4 linked regions of the Homo sapiens genome follow. The protein of the gene in region 1 purifies or fractionates together with the protein of each later gene. This does not show direct contact. Each region holds a gene or a part of one and is shown in the gene's direction. Other genes may lie near its edges. The genes, in order: STK26, FGFR1OP2, SIKE1 and SLMAP.

Evidence for each region.
Region 2: the proteins of STK26 (region 1) and FGFR1OP2 purify together in Homo sapiens (affinity purification with mass spectrometry; 4 studies listed by BioGRID and IntAct, with this or other methods). This does not show direct contact.
Region 3: the proteins of STK26 (region 1) and SIKE1 purify together in Homo sapiens (affinity purification with mass spectrometry; 4 studies listed by BioGRID and IntAct, with this or other methods). This does not show direct contact.
Region 4: the proteins of STK26 (region 1) and SLMAP purify together in Homo sapiens (affinity purification with mass spectrometry; 5 studies listed by BioGRID and IntAct, with this or other methods). This does not show direct contact.

Annotation. Positions count from the first base shown.
Region 1 is NC_000023.11:132,018,300-132,026,416, forward strand, and holds the start of STK26 (serine/threonine-protein kinase 26), read left to right. Parts: upstream 1-5,002; 5' UTR 5,003-5,108; intron 5,109-5,208; 5' UTR 5,209-5,318; coding exon 5,319-5,360; intron 5,361-8,117. UniProt on the Homo sapiens protein: Serine/threonine-protein kinase that acts as a mediator of cell growth. Modulates apoptosis. In association with STK24 negatively regulates Golgi reorientation in polarized cell migration upon RHO activation.
Region 2 is NC_000012.12:26,948,336-26,955,620, forward strand, and holds part of FGFR1OP2 (FGFR1 oncogene partner 2), read left to right. Parts: intron 1-5,809; 5' UTR 5,810-5,823; coding exon 5,824-5,958; intron 5,959-7,285. UniProt on the Homo sapiens protein: May be involved in wound healing pathway.
Region 3 is NC_000001.11:114,770,649-114,777,933, reverse strand, and holds part of SIKE1 (suppressor of IKBKE 1), read left to right. Parts: intron 1-1,474; coding exon 1,475-1,588; intron 1,589-3,561; coding exon 3,562-3,663; 3' UTR 3,664-7,285.
Region 4 is NC_000003.12:57,906,195-57,913,479, forward strand, and holds part of SLMAP (sarcolemmal membrane-associated protein), read left to right. Parts: intron 1-1,689; coding exon 1,690-1,812; intron 1,813-2,860; coding exon of another isoform or gene 2,861-2,881; coding exon 2,882-2,956; intron 2,957-5,692; exon of another isoform or gene 5,693-5,727; intron 5,728-5,944; coding exon of another isoform or gene 5,945-5,997; exon of another isoform or gene 5,998-6,186; coding exon 6,187-6,507; intron 6,508-6,963; coding exon 6,964-7,081; coding exon of another isoform or gene 7,082-7,148; exon of another isoform or gene 7,149-7,285. UniProt on the Homo sapiens protein: Associates with the striatin-interacting phosphatase and kinase (STRIPAK) core complex, forming the extended (SIKE1:SLMAP)STRIPAK complex.

The DNA of each region.
Region 1 (8,117 bases):
CTTGGATAGTATAGTTTCCATTATATATAATACTATGATAATATATTGTGCAAGCCACAAAAGGTGGAAGGTTATTCAGGAGAATTCGGAAGTCACACAGTTTTAATGTTTAAGGTTTAATGTTCCTTGACCAAGGTCTGATTCAATAGGTTTCTTCTTGGGATGCTATGCTGGAACAATAGCAACGATACATATGACATCTGCAAGAACTATCATAACATGGTTTCCAACTTGATGTCCAATGAGAGTAAACAGTAAATTTGAGGTATCATCTATGCTTTTATTAAAATAAAAAATGGCCCTTGAATGTTGTACTTCCAAATATCAGTAGACTCCGCAGCCTGAATCAAAATATTCCCATCACTGGATGGTGAGCTTCTAGAATTACCCAGATAATTTTCTTTAGTTTCAAATACTCAGGTAAGTATATCAATTTGCCATTATATTTCATACATATATACATTTTATCCATTTCATCATAGTCACTAGGCTCAAAATGTGTAAGTCCAAAATGTGAAATCCTACCTTTAAATTTTGTAAAGTAGAATAAGAGGTCAAATTTATCATGATGAGTTAACATATTTGAAGGCTAGGTAATGCCTGGTATATTAGAACATGCTCAGTAATTAATTTTTTTAAAAAATCATTATTTTTTTACTTAAAGTTATTTTCTGTTCAACACTATTTTTCATTAAGTTGTATTCACTTTTAGGGGGCAGATGATCTATGGTTCATTACAGAGGTAAAATAAGAATACTGCTTTGTTTCTATTACCCACTTGATGTGGCTCAATATCTTATGAGTCTTTTCTTTATTTGGTCCCAGCCACAACACTGAGCTAAAATCTTCAGAGAACAATGATTTTCAAGTCTGTTTCTTGGTTAGTAGCTCCTAATGCAAAAAGTGCGGAGCATGGTTTCTCAAACCTTATCATTATTGACATTGTGGACTGAATAGTTCTTTCTTGTGGGGACTGCCCTGTGCGTCGTAAGATGTTTAACAGCATCCCTGGCCTCCACTCTCTAGATGCCAGTAGCACCTACCTGCCTATTTGTGATACCCAGAAATGTTCTCCAGAAGGCATAATTGGTCCTAGTTGAAAAACATGCCCTTATTTCACTGCCGCCTGTATTAAAGTTTGGCTATTTCCATCTACCTACACTTTAGCTAAGAACCAGTCAATTCAGTAAATATTTGTAAACATGGGTAAAGTTAAATATTTAATACAGGTTGAGCATCCCTAATCTGAAAATCTGAAATCTAAAATGCTCCAAAATTGGAAACTTTTTGAGTGCTGACATGATATCACAAGTAGAAAATTCCATACCTGACACCTTTGCTTTCTGATGGTTCAATGTATACCAACTTTGTTTCATGTACAAATTAAAAATATTGTATAAAACTATCATCAGGCTATGTATATAAGGTGTATCTGAAGCATAAACGAATTTAATGTTCAGACTTGTGTCCCATACCCAAGATATTACGTATATGCAATTATTCCAAACTCCAAAAACATCCAAAATCTGAAGCACTTCTTGTCCTAAGCATTTTGGATAAGGGATACTCAACCTGAATAGAGGGTATGACAAATGTCAGGAAATTGAAACCAGGTGCCAAATGTAAATTATTAAGTTTTGAGGCCTCAAGAACACTGTCTAACTTGAAATTCACTAACCTTACCTAATCTGTGTATAATGTTACTCAAAACCTTACCTAATCTGTGTATAATCTTATTTTATTTATATGGTTATTAAGTATTCACAGCCATTCAGATCACATCAATCAAGCAGGTACCAAATCCTTTCTGAGGTGCTATGTTACACTCTACGTGTGACCAAAAAGCATAAGTTGTGTCTCTCCTCAAGAAACGTTTTCCATTAAACTACGGGAATACACTGTAATATATTTTCAGACTCTGGGCTGACTTTTTTTTTTTTTTTTTTTTGGAGATGGAGTCTCGCTCTGTGGCCCAGGGCGGAGTACAGTGGCATGATCTCAGCTCACTGCAACTTCTGCCTCCCAGGTTCAAGCAATTCTCCTGCCTCAGCTTCCAGAGTAGCTGGGATTACAGGCACACACCACCATGTCCAGCTAATTTTTGTATTTTTAGTAGAGATGGGGTTTCGCCATGTTGGCCAGGCTGGTCTCAAACTCCTGACCTCAGGTAACCTGCCCGCCTCGGCCTCCCAAAGTGCTGGGAACAGGGGTGAGGCACCACGCCTGGCCTGGGCTGACAATTTGAAGTAAAATATTTAAGTTTCCTTTGTGTGTGTGTGTAACAAAAGCGTACTTGAATTTCTTGTCATTTTATTTAAGAATTTGAGAAATAATCCAGTTCAAAGTGGAAAAAAAGTTTCTAATGCTCATAAAATTTGAATTGTTTTCAAATGTTGACACCTTCACAAGATTTAATTTATAGATACACACACACACACAGACACAGACACACACACACACACACACAGGAAAAATCATTTAAAAGCCCACAAGCAATCCCATGTAAAAACTCAAGTGATCTCTATCAATTATAACAACAACTGATGCTTTATTTAATAGCAGTAAACCTAAATAAAGGCTAAAAAGCTCACTAAGATCTCAAATGCAATGTCTTTCAGGAAATGTCTCAATATTCCAGGTCTCAGCATTAAGCTTTTATTCTTCCACATAGTTACATAACTCTGGCCCAGAATGATGTCAGAGAAAGTCATTTCTCTGATATGCTTAATTTACTTATCTATCAAAATTATACAACTGGCTCATAAGTAGTTGTGAAATTAAACTAGCAGGAAAGAATTTTGGAGACTAAATAATGAAAGATGTAACACACAATAAACTGAACAATTTAAATGTTCAGTAAGGGCAATGCCTAGGGGTTTAACCTGACATCAATAAAATATATAGTGTATACATTATGCACCTAGTAACCTCAGTGGAGAATTCAAAAGAAGTTCATTCATTCATTCAACAATTATTTATTGAGGGCCTACTACATGCCATGAACCTAGTCTCTGGGGATACAGCAATGGACAAAATGTATAAAAAGCTTGCCCTCAGACTCCTGCCATCCTACCTGAATCATTCTCATGTAAGAGAGGCTGGATCTCTGCCCTCAAGGACCTAATATGGGCACACAAAACAAATGAAATATATGAAATAAGAAGAAAGAACTACAGTGTGAGCGCTGCTCACATTGGAGGAGTTTGAAGGAGGGCTTGGAGCAACTAGGAAGGGTCAATGGAGGTGAGATTTGAGACAGGTCTTAAATGATGGAGCTTGATTCAGACCCTTGCGACTTAAAAGTGTGATCTAAACATCATCACCATGTGAGAGCTTGTTAGCATTGCAGAATCTTGGGCCCAGTCCAGACATGGGAGATAAAAATCTGCGCTTTTGAGGGAGCAAAAGAACCCTCGGATTTCTATGGACATTAAAAGTTTAGGTGGCACTGCAGGTTTCCGGTCAGGCTGGCAATGTTGTGAGCTGGGTTGGTGGGAAATCGAGACTAGATTGGAGCCTAACATTAGGTTAGAAATAGTGAAGGGCTGGACTTGGGGAACTAGGAGTAAGGAAAATGCAATTGTACCTTTTATCATCATTAAACACAAACAGAAACCATAGAGAAAGTAGTAAGTTTATCACCAGTCAGAGGGACCTGCGTCTGAATTCCCAGCTGTACCACTTCTTAATTGCGTGACATTTCGGTCAAATTATTTAACCTGGTTGAGCCTTTTTCTTCATCTGTAAAATGAGGGGAAATCAATAAGACTCCAGAAGGCCCTTGTACAGGTTCAGTAAGGTATTAATAACACATAGAAAGCACTTAGCAGTCCCTGGCACAATGAAAATAATATCCATTAATAATAACGATATTGATAAGAATTATATACTATTCTCTGAAAAAGATTTAAAAGGAAGAAGAGAAACTATCTTTTACCACTAGAGGCCCCCCACCGTGTGGTGCGTAGAGACCCATAACAAATTTCAAGGTAAGGAACTTCATCTTCATTTTAAACTGGCACTCGACTATTACTTTTTTAAAAAGTAATTAACCCCTTACGTGTTCCCAAAGGTGCCTTCATAATGAAATTCCTGTTACTATTATTACCAGTGTTACTGTCGCTACTGTTAGAGTACTCTCAAAAGAGCCTGTCTCCCTCTCCTGGAGTAGAACTTAAAATGGGGCGGAGGCAGGGAGTTACCAAAACCACTGCAGTGTATGCTGATTTCAATAACCTGTACTGCTAACGATCCAATCTCATTTCCCAAGCCTCTACTATCCTCATTAATTTTTCTGCCGATGTACCATCTGTTTTCCAATTTCCCTCTGCCTTACACGTGCAGAACTTGTGGTAGAGAGAAGCCCTAGTTTGGCCGTTCTGCAAGGGATAGCCCAGGAGGTAGGGGGAACCTTAAGTTGAAGTCACCTGAAGCATGTTTGGGGTCAGGGAACTCGGAAAGCAAGAGTGTGGCCACAGATCTGCCCAGAGGCGCGACCCCCAGCTGAGGAGACCAGATGGCGGGAAAAAGCGGGGGTCCACCGACTCCGCGGCTATCTGTAATCCTACCCTTGGCCAGGCCGGGGAGCCAAGAAAGACTTCCAACACTCCCCAAGTTTCAGCTCAAGTCGTCTCCGAGGCTGCGTGTGCCCCAGCCTCGCACGCCTCCCTGCAACGTGGCCGCATCTGGGGCGCCCTCATACCCTCAGGGTTTCCCAAACTCTTCCATTCTCTTCCCAGGCCCAGCCATGTCCCAGGTCTCCGGGTCCCCGGGTTCTCCTCTCCGCGTGCCGGGAGAGTCTCCAGCTTCTCAGACTCCAGCAACCCCAGCCAAACCTCTTCGCTGCCTGGAGCCTTGGCTCCCGCGACACCGCCCGGCTGCGGGGCGGGGGCAGGGCCAACGGCGGAACCGCCCCCAACCGCCTCCCAGGCCAGGCGAGCAGGCGGGTGGCTGGGGCGCCTCCACCTCCTCTTCCTAAAGCGGCGAGGCGCAGAGGAGCGGCATCACTCGAGCCCAGGTCCCAGCCACCACCACTCACAGCGCTCGGCGTTCAGGAAGAGGAGCAGCAGCGGAGGCGGCTGCTTCAGCGGCGGGCGGGCGCCAGAAAGGTAGACTGAGTCCCAGGGAGCTGCGCCGCTAACAGCCCACCTCCTAGCCCCGGGCTACGCGCCGCCAGCCCAGTAACCCCACTTTTGTGTGTCCTCCCAGGCCCCGATCGAAAAGCCTGGGAGGGCCGCCGAACTACCCCCGGAGGGAGGAGCCAGTCCGAACCCAAGGCGCCACCGCCGCAGAAGCGGAGCGAGGCAGCATTCGCCTCCATGGCCCACTCGCCGGTGGCTGTCCAAGTGCCTGGGATGCAGGTGAGGAAGCGCAGGCCGCCCCCGCCGCCCACGTGACTGCTTGGGAGCCCGGTGCGCCCTCGGTGCTGGGCACCGGCGACAAGGGACGGCCCCAGGGCTCCCCTGAGGGCAGGGCCGGTCACTATGGCCAGGTGACCTGGGAGTAGGGCTGGAGGTGTTTCCTGGTGTGTAGGCTAGGTAGTGCTCTTCGCTGGGAAGGCGAGGCGGGACTGGAGCGCGCAACTAGGTGGAGATTGAGGGCGGTTGGGGGTATAAAAATAGGCCAGAGCCACAGACACCTGCGCCTGCTGAGCTTGGCACGGTTGGGGATGGGGGGGCGGAACTTAACCTGGGAGAGATGGAAGTGCCTTGGAATTTGTGGGGTATAACGCGAGTAGTGAGTGCCCTACACCCCCCACCCCAAACACACACTCAAGTTGGGGCGGGGCAACACCAGGGGTGGCGGCGGCGGCGGCTTGAATTGGGCTCTTCCTGTGTGCGTAGGGCTAAGAGAGAGGTGACCTCTTTCTCCCTTTCGGTACTGCTGCTTAAGGGCAAAGTTGTAGCTTGCTCCCCGACCTAGCCCAGCCCATAGTGTGGCGTGAGAAATGCTGGTTCTGTTCAGAGTCACTGAGGTGATGACTTCTCAGCCCCCTCCGTGCCTTTCCCACAAGATGACTGTTACATGTGGTTAAAGGAAGCTTTTTGTCTTGGACAAGGGACTACTGCATGGGACCCAACTTGTTACTCGAAGTCTACCCAGCCCAACCCCCTCCCATTATATTTTCATTTTATTAAAGATAAGCTATGTCAGAAAACTTTTTATGCTGTTATGTTTTTAAATCGGTGCATTTTAGGCTATCTGCTAAGTGTTATCCAAATTTACTAACTTTTTAAAGCATTCATGTTCTATTTTTTTTTCCTTTGCTAGATGGCCTAAACAACCCATTTAGGGGCTAAAACCACTGAAGCCTCAGTCTTTCATGATCTAAAATGTGAAAACAAACTTTTTTGAAGTTCAAAAATAAAATGTTTATAGTAAATAGCTTATATTTCTAGTAGAAATCAAAGAGCTGTAGACTGGGGCCTCAATTTACTTATTGATACATGGAGTTTTTTTTTTTTTTTCAGTGTTCTCATTTTATGAATGTCCACAAAAGTGATTTTTAAATTCTTTCCCAAAATGGGATTTATTTGTGCACCTAGAACTCTTGGTGTGTCCTAAACACCAGACATTTCAGCTGCATTTAGGGCAAGTCTGGGTTGAGTCTCAGGAAGTTAGTGTATATTAAATAAAGAGAGAGAGAGAAAGGGAAATAGGAAATAGTAGGGCTTAAAAAAAAAGATTAATCCACTCAAGCCTTGCAAAATGCCTTAAACTTTCTTCCTCTCAGGCGGCCTCCCCTCTCCTTCCCTCCTTCTTTTCCCCACGCACCCTGCCCCACACCCCATTCATTCAGTTCTGCCTTTGATTGTATCAAGGGAATTCATAGTTCACAATACTAAGTACAGTTTTGCTGTTTGATCTGGGAAAAAGTGACATTTTCTCACCGTGCTCTTCTTTCCATTCTGTGGAGAGTAAAACGATGCACATGTGAAGTTTGTCTCTGAGGGTCTCCATGCTTCTCGCTCCATTGTGTGCGCGAGCCTGCGTGTGTGCGTCAGCAGAGTGAGTGCCTCCAGTTCATCAAGTTTGTGATTCTGGGGAACTCTGTGTGCTGAGGGGAAAATGGTTTCTGATTTTTATTTTATTTGTCTTGAACTTATTGAATTTATATGGTTTAGGAACTGCTTGCTGTTCAGTATTTCTGATTGCTCCCTGCTTTTAATTATCTGAGTTGCCTATCTCTTGAATTTTTAAATCTTAATTAATGTGGATTCGAATGTGAATCATATACTTTAAATTACAAATTCTGCCTTTCACTCTGTGCCCTCTGAGTTGTGATTACTTTGTCCCACCTAATTTGAGTAGGGCAAACATCTCAACGTTAGCAAAGAAGAGAGGAATCTTTTTTTTTTTTTTTTTTGGTCATTCTCTTCATCTTAATGAAATGGTAAATTCTTAACTTCTTATTTCCATTTTATTTCTAATGTAGTTCTTAAGCACTTTGTGCAGCACACAGTTTTTTCCATAGTTGAAAATGTACAATACCTTAATAATAAATTTGATAGCATGCAGTGTGACTCTTGAAGCTAGACTATTTTTATTATTGTTATGTAGCAAAATATTGCAGATGAGATGCAGAAATCTATCGTGAGCTTGTAAAATTCTCCTAGAGTTTTATGAAGGCGTTAGGAGCAACTTTTAGACCTTTAGAAAACTTCAGTTAGCCATGTGTTCTTGAAATTACTGTATAGTGTTTCCACAAATCAGGGTGAGGTAGCCGACCAGCCTATAACTTTTTAACAGTTTATTTTAGAGAATTATGAAGATTGATGGGAAAAATGATTTTTCCAGAAATACAAAGAAAATTACTTTATCCACAATTATTTTCTCCCTCTGAGGAGAGACGTGAAGTAGAAGCCCAGCTACCTGTTCTATCACTTAAGATTTCCAGCATTCCTGACTTTCAAACAAAGAAATTGCTGTTGCCACTAGTTTAAAATAGAAAAGAAACTTGGAGTGAAGAAAGAAAACCCAGGATTTCGTCCAGTTCAAACTCTTCCTTATGAATTAGTTATTCAAACTCATATTGTTGATATTTCTTAATATTGTGGTAACGAACATTTTTTGCCACGTTACACCAAATGTTGAGGGTATGAAGTTTTTTGTACTTA
Region 2 (7,285 bases), on another chromosome or scaffold:
ACTGGAAATAAGTTCTTCTTTCTCTTCAGCTGAGAATGACTTTTATTTCACCTTCATATATGAAACATATTTTTGCTGGATATAGAATTTTGGGTTGATAGGTCTGTTCTTTCAGCATTTTGAAAGTGTTGTTCTACTTTTTACTGGCCTTCATTTCTGTTGGGAAGCCTACAGTCATTCAAATTGTTCTCTATGAGTAATATGTCATTTTTCTCTGGCTGCTTTCAAGATTTTCTCTTTGTCTTTAGTTTTTGGAAATGTGACTACAACGTGTCTGGAGTTAGATCTTGTTGGAAACTCCTGCCTGGGGTTTCCTGAGGACTGGGAATGATGAAGACAAGGTTTCTTAGAAGGAAGCAAAGTGTTACATCATCGAAATGTATAAGTTTCAACTATTGAAGTTAAATATGTTTTTATATTATTGGATGACAAGTTAGAATGCGCTTGGGAGAATACACAAAATACAGTATTTTAGTCATTGTGAATATTGTGTCTTTTCGGTAGGGGACTCTTCTAAGGTATTCATAACGTAAACATACTAGAATATTTAAGAATATTGCCTGGCATGGTGGCATGCACCTATATAGTCTCAGCTACTCAGGAGACTGAAGTGGAGGGTCTTTGGAGTCCAGGAGTTCCAGCCTGGGTGATGGCAAGACCTCGCCTCTAAAAATAACTAAACTTAAAAAAATAATAATAAATATTTCTAAACCATGGAGAGAGGCAACTCCATAAAATCTTCTTAGAGATGTTCAGAAAGTTGTTCAGGAATGGTTTTAGTCGTTGATTCACCATTACAGTTTTTCTTTTTCATTTTGAGATGGAGTTTCGCTTTTGTTGCCCAGGCTAGAGTGCAATGGCGCGATCTCAGCTCACTGCAACCTCCACCTCCCAGGTACAAGCGATTCTCCTGTCTTGGCCTCCCAAGTAGCTCAGATTACAGGCTTGCACCACCACGCCCTGCTAATTTTTTTGTATTTAGTAGAGATGGGGTTTCATCATGTTAGGCTGGTCGCGAACTCCTGACCTCAGGTGATCCACCCACCTCAGCCTCCCAAAGTGCTGGGATTACAGGTGTGCACCACCACACCTGGCCTACAGTTTTTCCAGATTAATTTATTTACAAATGAAGCATGAATTAACCAGTATCCTATGCTATCCAAGGTAAGTTTTCCCATTCGTGTTTAATATTGTGGCCATTTTTTTCTACTTAAATGAAATGTTTCATGGAGTAGTATCTGTTTGAGGTTTTTTTTGTTTGAGACAGAGTTTTGCTCTTGTTGCCCAGGCTGGAGTGCAATGATGCGATCTTGGCTCGCTGCAACCTCTGCCTCCCGGGTTCAAGCGATTCTCCTGTCTCAGCTTCCCGAGTAGCTGGGATTACAGGCGCATGCCACCACACCCAGCTAATTTTTGTATTTTTAGTAGAGATGAGGTTTCATCATTATTGGTCAGGCTGGTCTCGAACTCCTGACCTCAGGTGATCCACCTGCCTCAGCCTCCCAAAGTACTGGGATTACAGGAGTGAGCCACCGTGCCTGGCCCTGTTTGAGGTGTTATGTGGTACTATCAAGTAGCCATTCTGATTATGTCAGTTTTTATCTTCATGGATCTTACAACTTGATGGTCACAATGGTTCTTTTGAAATTTGACAGGCCAAATTTTGTGTATCTATCATGGAGTCTTTTAACTTCTTCATGGGTTTATTTTACAGTTTCATATGAGGCTTTTGCATAAGGACATTTAGTCAAAGCATCCCGCTTATAGTAACGAACTTTAAGGTATTTCTATGGTATCTACAATATTGTTTCTACCTTTATGATAGCAGTTATATTAGGCAGCTACCATCAAGCCATCAAGTAGTTAATGTATTCGTTGTTTTTTTTTTTTTTTTTTTTTTTTTTGAGACAGAGTCCCGTTCTGTCACCCAGGCTGGAGGTGCAGTGGCACAATCTCGGCTCACTGCAAGCTCCGCCTCCCGGGTTCACGCTATTCTCCTGCCTCAGCCTCCTGCGTAGCTGAGACTACAGGCGCATGCCACTACGCCCGGCTAATTTTTTTTTTGTATTTTTAGTAGAGACGGAGTTTCACTGTGTTAGCCAGGATGGTCTCGATCTCCTGACCTCGTGATCCACCCGCCTCGGCCTCCCAAAGTGCTGGGATTACAGGCGTGAGCCACCGCACCTGCCCTGTATTCATTGTTTTTAAAAGGATATCTGAGAAACCTCTTTTCTTTGCAGCATTTCAGAGAAGTGGATTATTCTAAAAGCATATCACCTATTCATGTATATATTTACTTTCAGTAAGTTGCTCCATCTTAGTGGAGCACAGTTAAGTCATTTGATCAGTCTGGCTTCTGGTAAGAAATTGAATTTTATCACAGTGACTGATGTACCTGTTGCATATCAAGCCTGATACTGCTGATTTTTGTTTTTAAGATAAAACCCATTAACAAACAGTAAAGTCAGGATTTGGTACTAGAAAATTCAAAAGTTTTGTTTTGGACTTGAATACTTCTTGAGTTATGGAATCACAATCATGAGATTTTCCTTGCAGTAGGTAAAGGTTGCTGGATTAATACTGTTACACAGTGAATGGTAATATGAAAAAGAGAGAGTAGCAATATTTCATGATTACTCAAATGATAGAAATTTTGGATGGTTTCCTTTAGCAATAGGGATTTACTATGCATGGTAACATGAGGTTTAAAGACCTAGAATAACCTCTGAAGATGCTTTGATTAATTCAGTTGAGGTTTATAATTGCTCGGAGGCAGGGAAGCTAAACCTTAGCTGCTGAATTAAGGTATACGATTTTTTTTTTTTCTTTTTTTGAGATGCAGCCTCACTCTGAGGCCCAGGCTGGAGTGCAGTGGTGCTATGGCTCACTGCAACCTCTGCCTACTGGGTTTAAGTGATTCTCCTGCCTCAGCCTCCCAAATAGCTGGGATTACAGGCACCCCCCGACCAGGCCCGGCTAATTTTTGTATTTATTTATTTAGTTAGTTATTGAGACAGCCTGTTGCCCAGGCTGTAGTGCAGTGGTGCAATTTTGGCTCACTACAACCTCTGCCTCCCAAGTTCAAGCAATTCTCTTGCCTCAGCTTCCTGAGTAGCTGGTATCACAGGTGTGTGCCACCACGCCCAGCTAATTTTTGTATTTTTAGTAGAGACGGTGTTTCACCATGTTGGGCAGGCTGGTCTTGAACTCCTGAATTCAAGTGATCTGCCCTCCTCGACCTCCCAAAGTGCTGGGATTACAGGTGTGAGCCACTGCGCCCAGCCCAAGGTATACAATATAATAGACAGTGGGGTTTTGATGTCGTGTTGTTAATACTCCCAGGACACAGGGTACTATTTTTGTACTCAAAAAGATTTATGATTATGTAGGAAGACTATCTAGACTGAGGGCTATTTAGCTATCTGATCATATATAGGACCTTATTGCGTTTTATTTGGAAACAGATCCTGTCTATTGCATTTGTAGATGTTATGTTTTAGTGTGTAAAGAAGGGTTCTTCTTATAGTAGTCCCAACAATATCATTTACAGATTAGGACTGTTAGAGAGTTCTATTACTTGAGTTCTATTAAACCAAGGTAAACTTTATTTTCTCTCAAATCTTTTACAATTTGTTGTAGAGTTTCAAATTTGTCTTTTATTACTTTCACCATCTGTTATAAACTATTATTTTTACTATAAAACCAATTTTTTTGGTTATTTCATTTTTCTTAGTACAAGTCAGTGCCCGTCCTTTTTTTTTTTTTTTTTTTTAATTTTGCTTTACAGACAGCTTTAAAAGTTTACTCAGAAGGATCCGATGTTCTATAGTAATGGGATTAATGGGAGTTATAGTGATGTCCATTTAACCTATTTATGTTAACTTTCTTAACAAATAAGAAAGTTGTCTGTCTACAGTTTTAGATAATTTCCTTTGGAAATTTAGAGGAAGTACAGGGTATTGTTGGGCACTAATGCCTCTCTCAGAACGGCATCTTCGGATAGATTTTGGGTAGTTGTCCTTTTGGGTATTAGCCAGTATCAGACAATATTGGTTCCTTTAATGGCCCTTTTACTCCTCATATTTTCAAGCATCCTTATCTAAACCTCCTGAATCTTACAAGACAAATCTTGTGGTGGTTTTCTCTAGAGAGCCAGAAGTTATATTAATTTCCAGCTTGTTTACTTCTTAAGGCTCTCTGGAAATGTCTGATCATATATTGGACATTTTCTAAATTGGCGATTTAAATAACAGGAGAAAGTCTTCTGAAATTGCCTGATGTGTTTTATGAAATATTTTATACTGTTGAGTTATTTAAATTTTCTCTTTGCTACTTGTTGCTTTTTTTTTTTTTTTGTATTGGAGGGGATAATCATTAATTGGACTAGTTGGTACAGATCTGTAGTCCAGGGCAGTGGTATATAACAAAGTCCTGAATTCTGTGGCAAATTGCTGTTTTAATAAAGTTGATGAAAGTCTTTGTTTATAACCCTTCACTTGGATCTACACCAAATTTTAATTTAACTTCTGTAGACGTGGCTTCTGGCCTGGTAATTTAGTGTGATTTTATTTTTTGAGGAAACCCTGAAGAAAGGATGACTTATATTGAACGTTAGGTAAAACTTAGTAGAAAGATAAAAGATTTCAGCTGGGCACGGTGGCTCACACGTGTAATCCCAGCGCTTTGGGAGGCCAAGGCGGGCGGATCATGAGGTCAGGAGATCGAGACCATCCTGGCTAACACAGTGAAACCCCCGACTCTACTAAAAATACAAAAAAATGAGCCAGGCGTGGTGGCAGGTGCCTGTAGTCCCAGCTACTCGGGAGGCTGAGGCAGGAAAATGGCGTGAACCTGGGAGGTGGAGCTTGCAGTGAGCCGAGATCACGCCGCTGCACTCCAGCCAGCCTGGGCGACAGAGCGAGACTGTGTCTCCAAAAAAAAAAAAAAAAAAAAAGGAAGATAAAAGATTTCAAGGAGGGTAAGTGTAAGTTTCAGGAGAAACTTAAAGTTTTGGAAAGAGACTTTAAAATTATTAAAATTTTGTTTGAGGTTTCTACATACCAGTTGAAGAAGCTGACAATTGACTGTTTCATGTTTTGTCTCATATTTCTTTCAGCTACTCTTAAACATATTGCTTACTGATTTTAGCATATCAGAAGTTTCCTGTAATTACCAGTTTTGTCCTAAGTCAAAACTTTTTTTTGCACTTTAAGGAAGATGCAAGAGTTAGAATTATAATGCAACTTTATGTAAGAAGCAGAAGTTCTTCCAAGAAGAGGTTGAGACTTTAATGTAGCATGACACATTGAGGCCACTTCGGCTGGTCAGCAGTGTTTGTGAACAGTGTGTCAAGTCACCTGACCAAGCAGAGGTTAGGAAGCATTCTTACAGTCAAAGTTTTCAGACAGTCATTGACCCCAGAATACTGACCAGTAAACCAAATGATCTTCCTCAAAAGTGACAAGATAGGGAATGCCCTCATAAAGGGCAAATTTCTATATAACATTATATTCCTTGGACATGTACTTTTTTCCCCACTGTAAATTTAGAGTGTTTTAAATGCGTTCTAGTTCTGTCTGCAAATCTTTTAACTGTGTTCTAATTTTTTTGTAATAGTATAAATTTACTTTCAAGTTTGTAGTATCCTAACAGAAGCAAAACCACAGTGTTCTTAGGTGTTTTTTCCTCCCTGGACAGTGAACAATACTGTAACAAATGTGGCTTAAGAAGCATATCTGTGTTGACATGAAGCTAAAATAAAGAGATATGTTGACTTTATTTTGAGTCTTGATTTTAATTTTAATTATAGATATATCTTTAGAAATGAGTTGCACAATTGAGAAGGCACTTGCCGACGCTAAAGCTCTTGTTGAAAGATTAAGAGATCATGACGATGCAGCAGAATCTCTGATTGAGCAAACCACAGCTCTCAACAAGCGAGTAGAAGCCATGAAACAGGTTTGATTTTTCTTTCTTGTTCATTCCATTTATCAAAAGCAGTCATTGACATTTATGTATTGCTGGCTAATTAGTATCTAATTTTTTTCAACATTCTCTAAAATTTTAAAGTAGCTTGACTTGTGTGTTTCAGGTTTACTTTAATTTTGTCGTGTTCAGGTGATATACCTAGACATATATTTCTAAACCCTAGATTTGATCACTTATTTTGCTGACAGAGTTGCACATTTGAGTTTAGAAAATAAATGAATTTGTTAGGTCTAGAAACATTTGACAAAGACCAGATAATACCTTTTACTAATGTTGGTACACATTTTGTTCTGTCTTGTATAATGTAGAAATGTTCATATTTTTCTTTATAAAAGTACTTAGGTGATGCTGTTTAACAACAAAATAGCTTTTGAAAATGATGCAAGGTAATATGTGATTTATACTCTGTGCAGTTATTGTACCCATACTTGCTACCTTATTTTTCATTCAGTGCTACCAATTAAAGAATACATAAGGGCTTTCTTCTTGCTATTTTTACTATTGTATAACAGAATATTCCCATGGGCCACGGAGTTTAGACACTATTTTAACCTTCTTCTGATAAAAATTTTCAAGTCATTTAAGAAAATTATAAAATCTCTGACATTATGATGGAAATCAGAGGGGGAAAATGTATATTCACAGCCAAATCTCCTCATCTATTTTGTAAAAGGAAGCAATTCTGGGATAGTATTTTTAACAAAGCTACTGGAAATAGTGGAGCAAGTTTAGTTATTTGGTTTTACAACTGTGTTGCCCTAAACAGATTTACCTGCATCCCTAACCAACTGTCCAGCTAGACTCAGGCACTTCAGTGAACATATATCTGGTATTGAGTTGTTAAAAAAGGAGTTTGACATCTGAAGTTAAGAACCAGGAGTGTTATAATGAATATGTTACTAAGTGTCTCATGAGAATGCCTTGAAAATAAATAAGTGCAATTTTAAAATAAGATTCTCATTTTCTTAATGGAAAATCTTTTTGCATTTCTTTTGTACATGTTCTATTAAGATATTCACATACCATAAAATTTACTTTTTTGAAGGGTACAGTTCATTGGATTTTAGTACACATTTGCAGGTTATGCAGTATAACCACTACCTGATTCCAGAACATTTTCATCACCACAAAACCTTACATCCATCAGTGGTCTCTCTCTAGTTTCCCCTTTCCTCAGTCTCTGGCAACCACTAATATTTCTATCTCTTTGAATTTGCCTATTCTGGACATTTCATATAAATGGAATGATAAAATATGCGGCTTTTTGTGATTGGCTTCTTAACATAATGTTTTTAAG
Region 3 (7,285 bases), on another chromosome or scaffold:
ATGTAGTAAGCTTCCTGCCAGTAAAAGTATTCAAATTTAAGTTAAACAGCCACTTAGAGATAGTATCCAACATCCAATGGGTAGTTAAACTACAATTGATTTTTTTTTTCCATTTCAAATCTTTTTATTGGAGTGTGGACCTACTGGGGGATTGATGCACTGGACATAGATAATTTTCAGAAATGAAAATAACATTGCTTGCATCGAATCAGATTTCACCCACAAAAATGACTAAGGCCTTACCAGAGTTGGCATTGGATGAAACCTTAGTCCTTTATGGAAAGGGAATCATGTGGCCTTCTATTTCTGAAATAGACTAAAGATTACTCATTTATTCTCTGCAATTACAGCCATCAGATCCTTTGAAATCTTGGAAGGCATGAGATGATGACATGAGTGTAACACAAATCCATATTGAAGAGCCCAGTATTTTAAAATTCCCCATGTTCACATACCAAAGGGTTACTTATGAGCTGATGCATATCACAGATAACCATATGATTATCAACTTGATGTCTGGGCAAAGAGCGAAAACAGAAAATGCATTCTACTCTTCACTTCTTGGTTTTAAATATAAGAAACATTATATATATTTTAAAAAACTGTATTCCTTAGTAGTGGTATCAATAGAACATATACAACTGGAATGAGGATCCCCTTAAGGAGGCCTTTTTTTTGTTTGTTTTTTAAATAAGTTCTAGGGTACATGTGCAAAACGTGCAGGTTTGTTAACATATGTATACATGTGCCATGATGGTGTGCTGCACCCATTAACTCGTCCTTTACATTAGGTATTCCTCCTAATGCTATCCGTCCCCACTCCCCCAACCCTATGACAGGCCCCGGTGTGTGATGTTCCCCACCCTGTGTCCAAGTGTTCTCATTGTTCAATTCCCACCTATGAGTGAGAACATGCGGTGTTTGGTTTTCTGTCTTTGTGATAGTTTGCTCAGAATGATGGTTTCCAGCTTCATCCATGTCCCTACAAAGGACATGAACTCATCCTTTTTTATGGCTGCATAGTATTCCATGGTATATATGTGCCACATTTTCTTAATCCAGTCTATCATTGATGGACATTTGGGTTGGTTCCAAGTCTTTGCTATTGTGAATAGTGCCGCAATAAACATGTGTGCATGTGTCTTTATAGTAGCATGATTTACAATCCTTTGGGTATATACCCAGTAATGGGATTGCTGGGTCAAATGGTATTTCTAGTTCTAGATCCTTGAGGAATCACCACACTGTCTTCCACAATTGATTTTTTGAAAGAAAAAAAAAAAAATATCCGTGAATACAAGGTCACTTTACTATGGCTTCATGTCTGAGGACTAAAATTGTAGGGAAACTCCATTGTAACTTCTGTATCATAGATTAAATGAACTTTTAAAAATCGTAATGCACATGCTTTTACGTTCTTTATATCTACAGAACAGGTGATTTTTCCACCTTTGTTTCCTTAATATCTTCACAGGAAATTGAGAGTCAGATTGACAGAATCTGTGAAATGGGAGAAGTGATGAGGAAAGCAGTTCAGGTGGATGATGACCAGTTTTGTAAGATTCAGGAAAAATTAGCCCAATTAGAGGTAAGATTGTAGCTAATTTAGGTTCACAGTATTTCATAGTTTTCCGAGTCTGGAAGATATGCCATCACTATCCCATCACTGTAATATATTGATGTTTTCTGTGTGCTCATGATTTAAAATTAAAACTCCTCCTTCATACCCTTTTATACCCTTTTGAAGAAAGGAAATATAGTAAACAGCAATCAATGGAAATACCAACTATGTATTGGCAAGAACTTGAGGTATTATCATATGGGAAGGTAGAGGGAGTGGAGGGGAGAAGTTATATGTGAGATAAAATCCTTCATCTGCCATAATAAGAAGTGAAGTAGATAATGTCTAAAATTGATGATCAGGAAATAGCAGTATAAGCATATTATTTAGAATTACAGAATTAAATACCAAAAGAAATAGATAAAAGTGTTAAAAGTGGTTGCATTTGGGGTACAAAGCCAAAGAACTGCTTGTATAAGCCTTGTAGTCTTGATTTCTTAAAAGCTATGTTTATGTCATATTTTGATTAGAATAGGAATATGTTACAAAAAAAGTTCGGGGTATTAGTGTGCTCATAAAATTGTTAAGGAAAAACATTTCAACTTTGAGAGGCTGAGGTAAGTGAATTGCTTGAGCCCAAGAGTTCAAGAGCAGCTTGGGCAACATGGCGGAACCCTGTCTTTACAAAAAATACAGAAAATTAGCCAGGTGTGGTGGTGCACACCTGTAATCCCAGGTACTCAGAGGCTGAGGTGTGAGGATCACCTGAACCTGGGAAGTCAAGGCTGCAGTGAGCCACGATCATGCATGCCACTGCACTCCAACCGAGTGACAGAGTGAGACCCTGTCTCAAAAAAAAAAAAAAAAAAGCAAAGCATTTCAGTGAATGGTTTGAATGCTGCTTATTACAAGGTGCTGTCCTGGGGCCTTTGAGAAATACCAGAGAGAAAAAAACAGATACCTGCCCAGAGTCTAGTGGAAGGGATAACCCTAGTATTATATGATATTAAATAATATGTAAATGCTAGGAGACAGATACAAATACCGAAGGAAGCACTTCATGTGGTAGAAGATTCGTCGACCACAGGCTCTAATCTCTTAGTTACTCTAGCTGGGACTTCCGCACATCTTGGTGAAGCTAAAAATGCTTTGGTTTACCAGAGTTTTCTGCAGAGGATAAGGATGAAGAGCAGAAGCTACCCTCTCTAGAAATCAAAGGTAGTGACAGGTCCCAAGTAGGAATTAGGAGCTAGTGAAATGATAGCATGACCTTCTATTTATCCCCGATTTACCTCACTTACGGAAACAGCCCTAAGGAAATGTGGGGCAAATTCTACCTTAATACTTCAAGTAGAAAATACACGACCACCAGATTCAGACCCCAGCAATACCACATCCAAGTTGTCTGAATTTGGACAACTTTTAGGAATTTTGTGAGCCAGAGTATCCTCATCTGAAATATATGGATGTAGGCAATGATACCTACCCTACAGATTATTGTGAGATAACATATACAGGGCACCCAAGTAGTACCCAGCTACATGCTCAATAAGTAATTTCTTTCCCCCTTTCCTTCCATTTCTCTAGAACTGTAAGATATCCAGGAGAGGAGATTAATCAGAGTGAAACGATTATTAGGAATTTTTTAAATAAAAGAAATAATAGTAAAACTGTGGGAACCAAGAAGAATATAACAGTGAATTCCTTAAATGGAGAGGACCTTGTTTTTTGTTTCTCCTTTGTAATCCTAACACTTGGTATATAGAAATTACTCAGTAAATTACTACTACAAAAGAGTATCATTGCCTACATCCTACATGTAAATGTTTGTTAAATGAATAAAGTAGTATTTAAGGAAATTCTCAACTAGTGGATTTTTTGTTTCCATAAATTTTTTAAAATTAAAATAATGTTTTCTGCTCCTGGCTCAAAATAATGTGTTGTTGTAATGCAGTTGGACAGTAAAAATACCAGAAATAAACATGCCTTTTTTTTTCCAGCTTGAAAATAAGGAACTTCGAGAATTATTGTCCATCAGCAGTGAGTCTCTTCAAGCCAGAAAGGAAAACTCAATGGACACTGCTTCCCAAGCCATCAAATAACTGAACTCTGAATGATGGCTGGAGATTGTCTATCAAGGAAGGAAGTTACTGTCTTCCCATTCAAGTACTGTCCATTAAGTGTCTTGCCTCAGATTTGATTTAATCTTAATTAAAGGTATCAGGTGGCAATTTAGAATTCCAGTCAATATTGGCTGTCCACAGTTCTCAGATGTGTTAATGTGAATACTACATGCTGAATTTCACCATTCCTTTCTCAAAGAGACTACTTTTAATTTTCATTTCTGGGACCTTGATTTATATAAACTATGTTTTCAGTTCTTTGTTATTTTTCACATCTCTGAAACTTTGAGCATTTTTTATAAGCCAGCAATTTATTTTACATAGCATTGTAAAATACACTTCTAGGAAATTTTAGGAAAGATTTAACTGTTTAAATCTATTTGGCATAAACCTTGATTTTTTTTTTCCATTTGACAAAAATAATACAATTCCACAGAACTAGATCAGCAGATTCTCTGATTTGTAATGTCATTCACCTGTGACATTTTAAGTCTCTCTGGTGCTAAGAATTGGCACTTTATAGCCTGGTGCCTTTACTTTTAATTTGAGAGAACCTACTGCTAGTCCCAGGAAACACACTTGGAAATAAGTCAGCTATTTTTTTTGCCCAGTGATGCTATAGTTGTCATATTGTCCAAAGTTCATATTGTTCAAAGCTGAGGAGCTTGTCCTGTGTATGTGAATGCACACATGTGCACTTAGTTCAAATACTAAAAGTAGCTTTTATTAAATATAATCAGCCAAAAACACACACAAAATAAAAAAAACAAATATAAGTAGTCAGTTTTTCAATGTTATCCTACTAGTTCTACATTCTATTTTAATTTTTATACAATTTCCATTTTATAGTTAAGAACCATCACTTACTTGGATTGGATGTCTTTCATTCCTAGCACTAATAGTTGGCTTTCTTTTTTTTTGTTTACATAGAAGCAGGGTTTTTTTTTATCTTTTTTCTTTTTTTTTGTTTAAGCTATATAAAAAGGTGAGGAAGCAGTTTTGTTACCTAATGAAAATTATTACACTCATAATGCTGTGTAGGCAACATTGAGATTCAAATGCCCAGTGGTCAACTGGGTTCACTCATCAACTCATTCCCGTCCCAGTTTACTCACATTTCAAATTTATAAATTTCTTCATGTTATACTATTCTATTTAGATTTGCCCAGAATTAGTTGAAATAATGCTAAACCTGTCAATATTTTCCAGTAACATTAAGCACCATACTGCATGGGAGAGACACAGTACTAAAAAGAGTTGTTAGTGCTTTATGTGAGTGATATTTCTTTCGTAATGCTATAAAGAACTACAGTTAAAATAACAAAATATTTTAAAGATGTCCTAAAAGCATCTGATCCCAGTAATAACTAATGGATGTCATCTAGAGCAGTGGGTGTTAATGAATAGGTATATGTCATTTAAGAATTTTTCAAATTTCTGTTTGATATCCTGCATAGAATTTGACAAAAAAAACACTTCCAAGTGTGAGCATTTTTTATTTCATTTCCCAAGAGTAAGTAAGTAACTATTAGCCCAGCCATCTGCCTCGAAGTATACCTTAAGTGACCCCATAAATCCATTCAAGAGGCAGGTACTCTATACCATTTGGCAGCCACGGCCAAACCTACCATGGCCAGATTTCAGTGAAAATGATGAAGTAATCAAATCAAGGTATAATATGGTGTCCCTTTATGTGCTTTATGTTCCTTTAGAGCTGTTTATAAAGTTCTTTATATCTCAAGTGTTAGGATAAATCGACATACTAACTTTTCCCCCTGCAAAATTAAAAGCCTGAGGTACAAGTCTAAGAAGCTTTTAGTGCTCTACATAATATAAATTCTGGCTGGTGTTAATGCTATGAAGATAATATGTAGTTAGAAAATTGAGTCGGGGAGGAATGCTCTTCATTTTAAGTGGATTTTAAAGTTTCTCCTTGAGTGGATGAAGAACTTGCCTGGTTTGCAAAAATCTTAGTTCAAAATTATATTTTCTAACAAAAACTGCATTTTGAGAAGATAAGCTAATTTTACTCAGTAGTAAGTCAAATGAGGAAGTGCAGAGGGTTTTTTTACATATATATAGCAACCTTGTCAAGTGGTCCTCACAAGAGTCATAAATACTTTGTAATTAGCACAGTATATTCAGCAGTGTATAACTCTACAAATAGTACCTTATATTAGTGTAGTATTATATCAATATCTTATGTATAATTCTTATATTAATACCTTATGCATAATTGGATTCAAACATTGAAGGTCTATTTTAGTGTTCTTCAAAATGTGCTTCCCTGACCTACTGAAATAGAAACTTGGTGATGAAGTTCAAGAATTTGTATTCTAATCATCTCAAACAATTCCTAAAGACACTGATTTTAAAATATCTAGTCTAGGCCCCATTGTGTAATAGTTAGCACTCTAAAAGATGAAAAAGAAAATAGTCTATGTGCCAACCACTTCATTAGTACTTATGAATTTAAAAATGAAAAAGTCTGGTACAGGAGACAAGTATATATATAAAATTATAATGCAGTGTGATAAATCCATTATAGTATGTATAAGATACAGAAGAGGGACTTTAAACTTGAGAATTCAATAGAGATAATAAATGGGTAGGAGGGAAATAGAAAACTTTGGTGCCACAAAAGCAAAGTATGTATGGTATTGCCAATAATAGCTACCATCTATTGAGTGCTTTACTACCTGTCAGGTACTGTATTATATAAACTCCATTTTAACTGTACCTCATTTTGCAGATACTCAGGCACAAGGAGGTGGTTATTTGTCCAAACTGGAACCAAGATTCAAACCCAGACAGAGTCTTAAGCACATTTTTAATCACTAACTAACTTGAGATGCCTAAATGCCAAATACTGTTGGGAGTTCAAGTGGTTCTTGATTAGCAAAATCTATTTTTATTAGTGCAAAAGAAACACCACAGCTTATAAAGTATTATGAATTCAATAAATGGAGTCTTAACTAATGAGATATTATTTTCTAGAATGGTGTAGCTGAGAGTATGTGTGATTCAACTGAAAGGAATAATGTTTAATCAGTGACTCTTACTATATACAGGAAAAGGTGCAGTTCTGTCTTTCAAATCTGCCTCCTTACCATATTGGCTTACATCCCTCATGCTGTTTTCTTGTGTTTGCTAGAAAGTTGTTGCCAAGCCAAATGTCATGGCCATGTTGAAGGCAAGGAAGAAAAAATGGAAATGGCCTGTGCCAGCTATATATATCGCCTTTTATGAGGGAAAGCAAAGCTTTCTCAGAAATCCCAAATGGATTTTCCCTTGACTTAATTGCCTGACCAGTTAAATGGCCACTGGTACCTGCAAAGAAAGCAGGGTACATAGCTGTCCCAAATAAAATCAGTATTAGCAAGAAGAAAGAATATTGAGAAAGCAATTAACAGTGTCTGTGACTGTGACATGTCTGTGACTTTATATTGTCAAGTCCTTTCCCCTTGAATATAGTTTTGGAAGAATTAGCTGAAGGAGTGTGTTGACATTGAATGGCCAAGAGAATGGGCTGTAGCAGACATCTGTCATTTCTCTTTTGGCTGCCCAGTATCCTAACTCCTGTGTTTAAGGAATCCCTCAC
Region 4 (7,285 bases), on another chromosome or scaffold:
TGGAAAAATCTCTCTCTCTACATGCCCCTTCCCTGGCCCAAAGACCTTTTGAAGGAAGAATTGATAAGTTGACTAGAGTAGCTGAACCCAGAATCAAATTTTTTTCTTTTTTTTTCTTTTTTTTTTTTTTTTTTTTTTAGAGACACAGTCACTCTCTGTCGCCCAGGCTGGAGTGCAGTGGCGCGATCTTGGCTCATTGCCACCTCTGCCTCCCAGGTTCAAGCAATTCTCGTGCCTCAGCCTCCTGAGTAGCTGGGATTACAGGCGCGCACCACCACGCCCAGCTAATTTTTAGTATTTTTAGTAGAGACGGGGTTTCCACATGTTGCCCAGGCTGGTCTCAAACTCCTGACCTCAAGTGATCTGCCTGCCTCAGCCTCCCAGAGTGCTAGGATTACAGGCATGAACCACCGCGCCTAGGCCAGAATACAATTTTTCTAGAGAGAAAAATAGGATATAATCTATGAATATGAAAAAAAAATATATATATATATATATATATATATAATTTCCAAAACCTATTGTAATTGTATTGTGAAAGTTATTCTTAGCTCTTTTTTGATGAATTGAAGTTATTATGCTGAGGTACTTATAAACCAAGGTGATACTCAAATAGAATTCATTAGAACAATATGGCTTACCTGATGATATATTTATTTCAGGCAGTGTTCAGTAGCAGAAGGTTTTAAAAAATTAAAAAGCAGAATGATTGGAGAGGAAGGAGTTTAGGGGAAGGGGCATATTTGAAATAGAATGCTGGATTTAATTTATTTCGGTAAAACCACTTAGGTTACATCATTTAATATATTCAGCAGATTTTTGTTGTTGTTGCGGTTTTTTTTTTTCTTTTTGATACAGAGTCTCACTCTGTTGCCCAGGCTGGAGCGCAGTGGCGCGATCTCGGCTCACTGCAACGTCTGCCTCTTGTGTTCAAGCAGTTCTCCTGCCTCAGCCTCCCAAGTAGCTGGGACTACTGGCACCTGCCACCACGCCTGGCTAATTTTTTGTGTTTTTAGTAGAGACGGGGTTTCACCGTATTAGCCAGGATGGTCTCGATCTCCTGACCTCGTGATCCGCCTGCCTCAGCCTCCCAAAGTGCTGGGATTACAGGCATGAGCCACCACGCCCAGCTCAGATATTTGTTATATGTGCGTGTTGGGGAAATGATGATGACAAAGTAGGCTCAGTAGAGCTTTCAGCCTAGTTTTTATTTTGTGTTCCACAACTAGGGTAATTGTGCTAAAATTTAGCTGTTACTTGAAGAAAAGTTTCTTTTTGTTTTCCATATCCAGTTAAGTTCCAAGTGAAATTTTTCTGACTGGTTATCAAGAAATTTCAAAATTGATGAAGAAGTATAGCATTTTGCTCATCTCACTGAATTTCAAGTCTTAATAAGCAATGAGTTATAATCTGTCACTGTCTGTTTATTTTGATGCTAGAATTGTGAATATATAATTTATGTTAATATATTTTTATAATGTCATCACCATGATTACTAATATATATAACTGTATTTGTATTTTCTCCCAACTACTAAAATGCTTACTATAATTTGCTTCTAAGTTTTATTTAACTCAGTTGTTCTATGTTGTTTATGCATGTGCAAACATGAGAGAGATTACCAGTCTTTTATTGTAGATTATAGTGTGATACTAACTCTTGCTTTTAAAATAAACATGTTTTTGTCAGATGACTTGCAGGGTGCACAGTCAGAAATTGAGGCAAAGCAAGAAATACAGCATCTTCGAAAGGAATTGATCGAAGCCCAGGAGCTAGCTAGAACAAGTAAACAAAAATGCTTTGAACTTCAAGGTGAGATCAAGATTACTTTGGTTCTTTAGGGATGTGTGGAGGCAGCACAATATAATTGGGTGGCCCCAAACTTGGAGTCCGGAGGCATGTTCCAGATTCACAACTTTATGAGATATGTGATCTTGGTATATTTACTTGACCTCTCTAAACTTGTGTTTCAGGTCAGTAAAATGAGGAGAGTTACAGTTGCTCTACCTTCACACTGTTGATGTGAAAATCAAGTAAGATCTTTACTAACTGAAAGATCTTAATAGTTAATTGCATATTAAGTACAACAGAAGGAAAACTCAAATTTCTAAATTTTTATTATGCCTAATGTTAGCTAATGTCCTGGCCACATTCTTTTCTAGTAGCTCACTTATCTATAGGTCATAAGCCAGTGGAGTCTGTGCAGTTCCCTAGAGCTTACATTTCTGTATCATTCATAGTAACTACCTGGTTGCAGACAATTAGTATCTCAAAGAGTCTTAAAATGAGAAAGGGAATGACTTCTGGAGCCCTCATGTTCTCCAAGATGGCCTTCCTGCCTAGTAGGAAGATTTACATCCCAGGAGGGAACTAGGAACTTCTTGTTACTACTTCTTTCCTTTCCTAATTCTCAAAGAAATTAGAATTGGTATTCACTTAACTTGAACCTTTTGGAGGATCCAGGCTAATATATTAAATTACAATGAAAAAATATTTGGTAAATAGCAATTATTTAGTTTAGTGTTTACTATGTGCTTGACAGTAAATATAAGAATTTTAAGTCTTTTTAAAAAATTAAGTTCAAAATGCTGATTAACAATTATCAAGACTGTTTCTCATGTTAAGAAAAGCACATATTGTCTTGGTGATACCAGGTCCAGAAAACTCCACTACTCAGTTGAATAGATTTATTACTTACTACAGTTCTGTGCTCCTAAAATCTTTAAACTAACTGCTAATACTGATAATACTTACTGCCTAACTTTTGTTTCTTTCAATAATCTTTTAGGAGAGAATTTTAAAAGAAATTTTCAGCTGCTCAACTCTGAGTACTTTCATTAATTCACAAAACTATTAATAGATACTGTGTTTTTACTTTTAGCTCTTTTGGAAGAAGAAAGAAAAGCCTATCGAAATCAAGTTGAGGAATCCACTAAACAAATACAGGTTCTTCAAGGTATGGAAGACCCCAAGGCTCTTTGAGATTGTTATTGTGTGTTTGTTTTTAGTGATTCAAAAGGAATGGAGGCCAGGCGCAGTGGCTCATGCCTGCAATCCCAGCATTTGGGAGGCCGAGAAGGGTGGATCTCCTGAGGTCAGGAATTCGAGAGCAGTGTGGCCAACATGGTGAACCCCTGTCTCCACTAAAAATACAAAAATTAGCTGGGCATGGTGGTGCATGCCTGTAATCCCAGCTTCTCGGGAGGCTGAGGCAGGAGAATTGCTTGAACCTGGGAGGTGGAGGTTTCAGTGAGCTGGGATTGCACCACTGCACTCCAGCCTGGGTGACAGAGCAAGACTCCATCTCAGAAAAAAAAAAAAAAATGAAATGGAAAGTAAGAAGGCAGAGAGTCCCCATTTTTCATGGCTTTGATTCTCTAGAACCTCACATTTCAACACGGCTCTTGGTGGAGCTTTATTTATTTATTTGTTTTTGAGACAGAGTTTCGCTCTTGTTGCCCAGGCTGGAGTACAATGGCGCGGTCTCACCTTACTGCAACCTCCGCCTCCCAGGTTCAAGCAATTCTCCTGCCTCAGCCTCCTGAGTAGCTGGGATTACAGGCATGCGCCACCACACCCAGCTAATTTTGTATTTTTAGTAGAGATGGGGTTTCTCCATGTTGGTCAGGCTGATCTCAAACTCCCAACCTCAGGTGATCCACCAATCTTGGCCTCCCAAAGTGCTGGGATTACAGGTGTGAGCCACTGCGCCTGGCCTATTTTTTTTTTTTTTTTAAAGAAAATTCAAGGGAAGATTGTCCAGTACTCTCGTATTAGACACTTAGAATGGAAAAAGCAGAGGTGAAGATTTGGAGTTGGTAAGACTGTCACTTTCTGAGTTATGTCGTGAGTTCCTACAGAGGGCCTTTGGATAGGAAATCTGTTTGAGCTACTCTGCGTCAGCACTTTGAGCTTGCTGGTATATGTATATATTGATGGCTGGTGTAGATATATTGCCATCTAATGCTCAGAACACACTTGTATTGCAAGAAAATATTTTTTTGCTTGTTTTTTTGAGACATAGTCTTGCTCTGTTGCCCAGGCTGGAGTGCAGTGGTGATCTTGGCTCACTACAACCTCCGTCTCCCGAGTTCAAGTGATTCTGGAGCCTCCCAAGTAGCTGGGACTACAGGTGCATGCCACCATGCCCAGCTAATTTTTGTATTTTTAGCAGAGATGGGGTTTCACTATATTGGCCAGGCTGGTCTCAAACTCCTGACCTCGTGATCCACCCACCTTGGCCTCCCAAAGTGCAGAGATTACAGGCATGAGCCACTGCACCTGGCCTCAAGAAAAATTATATATCACGTGGAATAGGATAGTAGTCTCTGCACTGATTTTCGTTGATAATGGCTGTTCTTCTTATCACCATTTTGCTATTTCTTTGTCTGGGCTATTACAGGGTTATTACAGAAATTTCCAGAAAGACCCCTGCCTGTCGAATGTTTACTTCAAGCTTGAGCTCCTGGTATATTATGAGGAAATTATATGATACCCCAGGAGAGGTCTTCCTTTCCCATGCCATTGTAAAATTCCTAAAGTAAAATTAATTTGCCTTCTTGTCAAAGAAGGAGCCAATGTTGTTTTAAAATTTTAGCTTGAGAGATAGGTGGGGAAGAAATTAAATAGACAAGTAATCACTATTCAGAAGAGAAGGGAGAGTCATTGTACGAGGCCCAAGATACTTGCCCAAAAATATCGCAGAGAAAAACTAGTCTTTGGGGTCCTATTTTTTGAGTGGAACATTTGAGTTATTTAAAATTAGAATTTTATTTTGGTCAGATTAGAATTTCTAGGGTATGTCATATGTGTTTTTAAATTGAAAGCTCTTAAAACTCCTATTGTAGTTTAATGTCATTATCCATTAATTTACATAAATCTGATTTGGATCTCTATTTTCATCGTAGACTGTGTAGGGGCAATTTTTCCTAAAGGTTCTGTGACATAGTGCTACCTTTTTTTTAAAACCTGTCTTGCCCAGGCATTATTGAGTGCCCCCTGGTGCCAGCATGTGTATTTCACGACTGTATCAACAAATCATGATCATCTTCTCTGGCCATTGTGCCCTTTCAGATTCCAAACTTGTTACCTCTCAGTCCTTCCTACAAACTTAGAAAGTCTAATATCTTAATGTTTACTTATGTAGCAACCTCCCTTTCTCCCATCCCTAAATCCTCTTGTAATTAATTATTTTCCTTTGGAACTTTTTAAATCTACAATTTCCTTATAATATGGTAACCAATATTAATTTTCTTGTTCTGCGCCAAGTTTGATTTTATACAAATTGTTTCCAGTTTGGGTCATGAGCACAAAACCAGGTATTTTTAAAAATCTATATAACCCTTCAATGAGGCAGTATTAATTTTATTAACTCATTAATTCAACCAATAATTCTTGATTGTTTACTGTGTTAGATATTGGGGTATCCCCAATACCTGACAGCTGTGAGCAAAACAAATGCCCTACACACATGAGGTGTACAGTCCAGTAGAAAAGATAAACAATAAGCAAATTAATAGATAATATGATGTCCAATAAGGACTTCAAAGGAAAATAAAGCAGAGTAAAGAGCCAGAGAATGACAGTGAGCTGTTTTTCACATGAGTCATCAGAAAAGGCCTCTTTAAAGAATTGACATTTGAACAGAAAAACGAATCAAGGGCGTCAACTGTTTATTGCTTTTATTGCTTACCATTTGACCAAGCAATTCTACACATAGGATTCACCCTAAAAAAAAAAAAAAAAAAAAAAAAAAGGATTGTATATAGTGTTTAAACACTGAACAGCCTAAAATGTCAAAAATAAAGGGTTGGGCAAATAAGTTATATATACTATAACTATTTTTTTGTTGAAAGAGTTTCATCAACAGAAGGATAGGGAACACTGCATTTATTGTGATCACTCCCTATTTAATGTTTGTTTTTACATGTTTATAAATGCATAGGAAAAAATCCAGAAGGAATATCAGAAGTAATTTTCTGTGTGTTGGGGAGATGAAGATCACTTTGGTTTTTTTTTCCTCTTTGCTATCTGTATTTTGACGCTTTCTGCATCAAACGTGGATTGTTTATACACTTTAATCAAAAGCAACAGCTCTGACAACCCAGGTTATGCATTAGCTACAATCCTGTATGGATTATTCTTTTATTCTAATGGGCCAAGAAAATGATGGATATACTTTTGCAGCCCAATTGCAGAGGTTACACATCGATACTGAGAATCTCCGGGAGGAGAAGGACAGTGAAATCACAAGTACTAGAGATGAATTGCTTAGTGCCCGAGATGAAATTTTGCTCCTTCATCAAGCAGCAGCAAAGGTTGCCTCTGAGCGGGACACTGACATTGCTTCTTTACAAGAAGAGCTTAAGAAGGTGAGAGCTGAGCTTGAGCGGTGGCGGAAAGCAGCGTCTGAATATGAGAAAGAAATCACAAGTCTGCAAAACAGTTTTCAGCTTAGATGTCAACAGTGTGAGGACCAGCAGAGAGAAGAAGCAACAAGGTTGCAAGGTGAATAAATGTATTTTACATAAAGCTGTTAACTTTTGACAATGATAACTTCTTAACTTGTTTAAAAAAGAAACATGCAGGCTTTTTTTTTCTTTGTTAGCTATCAGTTGTATAAACCAATGTTTTTAAATCGGAGCTAAAAATGTATTTTCAGGTCTGCAAGTTCTACTTAAATTTATATTTTTTTACGGTTTTATATTTTATTTTAAAATTGTTAAAAATTGCTTGTCTTATAAAAGTGAAGTGGAAAAAAATACTATTGTTCAAGTACAAGCTGATAGCAGTCCTTGAGGTATACATGCAAAGTAACAGGAATCATATAATTAACCATGTAAAATCTACTTGCTTTTAAGGGGGCAAAAAGTATGTTCTCCTCTGAAATCTTTTCCTTTATCCTTTGAAGTATTATGGAAGTTATATTTCTGTATTAACAAATATGTTTTGGGACTATTTTAGGTGAACTAGAGAAGTTGAGAAAGGAATGGAATGCATTGGAAACCGAATGCCATTCTCTAAAAAGGGAAAATGTTTTGCTATCATCAGAACTGCAACGGCAAGAAAAAGAATTGCACAAGTATGCAAGAACTCTCTGTTTTTCAGATATAAAATATTTCTTTATCTTAAATTTTCATCTAAATTAAATTTAATTTTAATACTTAAATATTTTACAGGAGCAAATGTTCAGCCCATCTCTGTTTGGCTATTTGGCAGGTTAACCATACTGAATAAATACTTCAGCTTTTTTTTTTCCTGCCACCACCATTATCCTACATGTCCT